Linked DNA regions of Homo sapiens: region 2 is linked to region 1. The links come from fine-mapping of genetic effects on gene expression. A gene starts in region 1. The other region holds a variant in brackets. All regions are shown on one strand. Distances are between the middles of the regions.

Region 1 (3,013 bases):
GTCCCACCGGCTCCCTGCTTCCACTGAAGAAGTCCTGAATAGTCTTCCTTGTTGAAAACTTTCAGGCAACAGAAGCAGGTCATGTACTAGAAGTCTACAAGCCATGGATGGAGCCAATGAGAGGTGTGTTATCCCTCCAGGCTGCAGGATGGGCCTCAAAATAAGCCAGATTGTAAAAAAGAGGTGGGTGAGAGGCAGTCAGAACAGTAGTCCTCAGCCTCATCTGGCCTACAGCTTGTCTGCAAAGTCCCACCAAAGGCCTCCACGGACCAAAACACTGCATGAGACTATGGCCCCAGGGGCAGGGAGACGCCGGTGGGTTTGAGAGACAGCTGGGGCGGTGTTGAAGGACACAGTGAGGGATCAGCCAGCCTATGGCCAGTGACAGGGGTAAAAGGAGGCCCTTCCTCCCAGGGGAAAATCTGGCCAGAGGCCCCAGTGAGGGAAGTGGGGGACCAGGGGAGAAAAGGATCCCTCTCTGGAACAGACTGTGCAGATCACGGTATGGTCAGCGCCAGGTCCTCAGGGACAGGACTGCAGGCAAGTCCTTACCCTTAGGAGCCCCTTTACATGTGCAGCCACTCACACCCCGGTGCGGTCATCCCGACTCCGGTATGCGGCAGCAACCGCCACCCACCCCTGCCCCAGCACAGATATGGGGGTGACTGCCTGCTGGAGGCCTGCTCGGACTCACTTCTCCAGGAACAGGGGCTCACTGCATTCGCCACGATCCTCAGAACCCCCTGAACCTGGGCCTGGCAACTCAGGTGACTGAAACCAGGTTTTGATGCCAGGAGCTAGGCTTAGGGAGGGAGAGACTCCAACTGCAGGCTAAAGATGAGTGCTCTACACCTGCAGTCAACCCACTTGCCACGGGCCTCTAGTGATTAACAAGCTACGGCCCAGAAAGCCAGTTCCACCAGGAGCTCCCTTGCCAGCCATCCACACCTCATAACGGTATGCCTTAGCCCTACCGGGCCGGGGCAGGCGCTCCGGGCCGCTCCTTCCTGTTTCCCGTTAAGCACATGGAAGCTCTGACCTCGCCTGCGAGGTGGGCACGGTGGGCCGGTAGGAAGAAAACGGGGCAGGGCCCTCCCCTCTCCTCCCACCCAAGCCACAGGACGCGTCCAGGCCAGGGCAACCCCGCGGGCCGCTGCCAGGGTGGAGGCTCTCGCGCCAATGGTCACCAAGCTCCTCCACTCCCCAACAAAGGGAAGCCCACGGCTCGGCCCCGTCGCCCGCAGCCCCCGCGTCCCCACCTTCCGCCCTACCTGTTGCCCGGGAAAGCTTCTCCGGCTCAGGGCGGCGCTGCCGCGGACACCGCGGCGCCAGGCCCGCCGGCCCCGGCCGCTCCCTTGAGGCGCTGCGCCCGCCTTACCCGGCGGCCGCCGCCATGAGCGCCCGCAGCGCCCCCCGCCAGCGCCGCCTCCCTCCTCGCCCCGGCCCCGCGGCCTTCCCAGCCCGACCCCTCCGCGGCCCCGCGACAAAGCGGCACCCGGGGCTCCCAACTTTTCCGCAGCCCCTTCCCACCCCCGCGCGGGGCTCGGGCGCCGGGCGGGGGCCCCGACTCACCCGGCGGCAGCGTTGGCGGGGCCGGGGCCGCTGCTCCGTGTACTCCGTCTGCTCGGGTGGTTGCTCCGAGGCCCCGAGGCCTGGCTCCCCGCGCCTCTCCTCCCTCTTCCGCCCGCCCGCCGGCCCGCGCCCGCCCTCGCCCTCCCTCCTCCGCCAGCCGCCGGCGCCGCCGCCGCCGCCCGCCGAGCCCAGTCGAGCTGAGCCCGAGCCCAGCCGGGAAAAAAAGGCCGCGAGCAGCCCAAGGGCCGGGAGGCTGGGCGTGACGGGAGGGGAGGGCGGGGCGGGCCTCTGCGCTGCGGCTGCCCCTTCGCCCCGGCGCGGGAGGCCAGACCCCAACCCTCCGCTCCCGGCCCCACAGCCGCGTCCACGCCCGTCACCTTGCGCTAGAGAAACCGCCGACCTGGGGAGGCGGGTGCGGGCTCCTTCCGCCACTTCGGTCTCTTTTCGGGGTGGGAGGTCTCCCACTGGGACCGACACAGACGCACTGGATGCCGCGGGGTCCCGGGCTCCGAGCGGCGGTGTCCCTGTCCCCTTACTCCTACCCACCCCCACCCACCCCCAACTGCTGTGCGGCCCCCGGTCCCCGCCAGGGTGGGCACATTCCCACTTCCAGCCCCACGGGGCGCGGGCGGAGGAGGGTGCAGCCCGGGGATCCTGCCCAAGTGCCTCGCGCCGAAGCTGAAAACCTCTCCAGGGCAGACCGAAGCAGCCGACCCTCGAGACCCAGTCGGAGCCTGCGATCACTCGGGCGACCCTCGCCTACCCCGCCGTAAAAGCCGCGGCCTTTCCACCTAGGTGCTACGGGACCTACCCCCGTGGCAAGGAAGAGCAAACCCGAACTTGCGCACACCCGGCGGCCCTGTCTGAAAGAGCCACCCCAACTTTTGTTTTGTAAAATGTATGAGTTTTCAAATGACACCACGTTTATCCGTATTCGATTTCGTGTTAAAAAGTGTTTTCCGGCCGGGCGCGGTGGCTCACGCCTGTAATCCCAGCACTTTGGGAGGCCGAGGCGGGCAGATCACCTGAGGTCAGGCGTTCGAGACCACCCTGGCCAACATGGTTAAACCCTGTCTCTACTAAAAATACAAAAATTAGCCGGGCACGGTGGCTCGCGCTTGTAATCCCAGCTACTCGGGAGGCTGAGCCACGAGAATCGCTTGAACCCTGGAGGTGGAGTTTGCAGTGAGCCGAGATCTCGCCACTGCACTCCAGCCTGGGCGACAGAGTGAGACTCCGTCTCAGGAAAAAAAAAAAAAAAGTGTTCTCCCCTTGGCCTGGCGCCGTGGCTTATGCCTGTAATCTCAGCACTTTGGGTGGCCGAGGTGGGCAGATCACTTGAGGTCAGAGTTCAAGACCAGCCTGGTCAACATAGCGAGACCCCCAACTCCTTTATAAATTTAAAAAAAAAAAGTTTTCCCCTTGAGTCGTGTGGTAAAAT
Region 2 (2,500 bases), 330 kb before region 1:
ATTTGCCCACATAAATGTGCATTCTTGGGAGCTAGAATGGTGCCCTATGCAATGTTTTATTGTCAGTGCCTAGCAAGTGCCCATCAATTTGTAAGTACTCAATATTTTTTTGATGAATGAATTATAGACAATAAGATATAGGGTGGCGTTCTCCAATTTTAACATGCAAGCTTTTAGAGTTTCTTTTTTTTTGAGACGGAGTCTCGCTCTATCGCCCAGGCTGGAGTGTAGAGGCGCAATCTTGGCTCACTGCAACCTCCGCCTCCCAGATTCAAGCAATTCTCCTGCCTCAGCCTCCTGAGTAGCTGGGATTACAGGAGTGCGCCACTATGGCCAGCTAATTTTGTATTTTTAGTAGAGATGGGGTTTCACCATGTTGGCCAGGCTGGTCTTGAACTCCTGACCTCAGATGATCCGCCCGCCTCGGCCTCCCAAAGTGCTGGGATTACAGGCATGAGCCATCGCGCCTGGCTGAGAATTTCTTTAAAATGCAGCTTCCTCCTAACTCCAGAGACTGATTTACTAGGATCTGCATTTTAGCAAGCTACCCTCCTATCTCACACACACATTTTGGTGCAATGGTCTTTGCAATATACTTTGAGAAACATTGTATAAAGCATGACTTATGGAAATAGTACTTTGTCTTAAATAAAAATATTAGAAAAGTATAAACAATCCTAATAAACAAATGTATTATTGTCCCTTGTGCTATAGATAAAGAAAGGGAGAACAATAAGCCAATTATAAGCACACTTACATTTTTACATGTTAACTCTGTTATAGTCAGGCATGTCACCTACATTTGGAACTTAAGATTTTCAACTCCTAAATTCAGGTGTCATTTGCAAGTAGATATTAGTAGAACAGATCATATTCATTCTCTTCATGGTAATAATGGTATAATTGGCTAATTTATTTTGATTGAGATGGAGACACTATTTAGGCTTTATAGTATTAGCTGGTGTTCATGTGGTCAGCTTTTGACATGTCCTGCCCCTCAGCCTATGTATGTTACAATTGTTTTTGTATCCCTCATTTTCTACATAGGATAAAACAAGCTGGTATGCTAGTGTAAAGGGGGAGGCATTA[A/C]TAGCCTTGTGTAGAAAGTCCTTAGTTCCAATTAAAACAATTTAAATTATAAAATTGTGCACAGAGAGACCAGAGAGCTGATAATTGATCTTTATTATACAGAAATGTGAAGGCCATAAGCATTAAATGAGAAGGAGTTTGGCAGTGAACATTATGCAGATTCAAACTGAAGGTATCCTCGTCTTACTGAGATATAAAAATAAACACTAAGAGTTGCAAGAAAGAACTCAATTCAACTTCTATCTCCCAATCAAGCTATAACTTTCCACAGGAAAACCTGGTTTCAATTCATGCCGAATTGTTCAAAGAAAAGAAAAAGCTAAATCAGTTAGAGACAACACATGGACTGGCTTTTGTCCTATTAGAGAGCCAGACTGAAGCTGTATTCAGCCTCACATTTAGAGACTGTTTCCTATTACAATTTATATCTCTATTTGCCTAAGAGATACCTAAAGTGAAAAACAAAAAAATGTTAACTGAGCTGGGGCATTTTTGTGGGGCTAAGTAGATTTGGCAGAGGAGAGAAATGAATAAATAATTCATTTAATTATTTCTAATCAAGAGGATTTAATGTCAGGTCTGGGTCATCTGTATTAACCCTTTGACAGTTTGTTGTTCTATAATGGTCAAGAAGCACTATCCCATTAAAGTATAATAAATGCTGAACATCAGCACAGCTCAGTGCACATCCTCTTTATATCCTCAAATACTGGACTTTATATCAGCATGCTTTCAATACCAAATTAGCCCTTTAAATAGGATCTTTCTTAATAAAGCTTCTCATTGCCCTCACTACTGAAGTAAAAAACGTGTTAGAGATTTGGCCAGAAAGATGGTTTTACTGAAATAAGACTGATGACTAGGAGCACATCTATGGATTAAATATAGACAAAACTACTCCCAGAAACCTTAAATATAGACAGACTTTATTAATTTATGTAGGAAGCCAAAAATAGGAAATAAAAAGATCTGGAGTTCAGATATACTGATATATTCAGCAACTGAAACTTACAATTCCTTCAATTCAGTCAGAGCAGAGACATTTAAAGTAGTCTGGAGGGGTGGGTGCAGTGGCTCAAGCCAGTAATCTCAGCACTTTGGGAGGCTGAGGTGGAAGAATTGCTTGAGCCCAGGAATTCAAGACCAGCCTGGGCAACAAAGCGAGACTCTTGTCTAAAACAAACAAAAAAAAGCTGAGTATGGTGGCACGTGCCTGTAGTCCCACTTAGTTGGGAGACTGAGGCAGGAGGATCCTTGAGCCCTGGAGGTCAAGGCTGCAGTCAGCTGTGATTGCACTACTGTACTCCTGCCTGGGCAAGAGCAAGACCCTGTCTCAAAAGAAAAAAAAAAAAAAAGTGGCCTGGGGGAAACAGGACAGTCATATACCCCAAGAATGGAAATTTTCATGCCA

What was found. PIP is the estimated chance that this variant, and not a neighbour inherited with it, causes the effect.
Region 2: its variant is fine-mapped to the expression of CERS2 in lung (TOPMed, PIP above 0.99).

Annotation. Positions count from the first base shown.
Region 1 is chr1:150,973,047-150,976,059 of GRCh38, forward strand. It overlaps CERS2 (ceramide synthase 2), which reads right to left and starts at 1,789. Exons shown (of 11, transcript NM_022075.5): 1 at 1,573-1,789. RefSeq lists enhancers at 7-938, 896-1,040, a cis regulatory region at 968 and silencers at 1,144-1,633, 1,654-2,093.
Region 2 is chr1:150,645,067-150,647,566 of GRCh38, forward strand. GOLPH3L (golgi phosphoprotein 3 like) reads right to left here. Exons shown (of 5, transcript NM_018178.6): 5 at 1,164-2,500. Among named protein-coding and RNA genes, the nearest start is that of ENSA, 17 kb to the left of the region's middle. RefSeq lists an enhancer at 1,799-2,300. The variant A/C (reference allele first, on the strand shown) is at 1,090.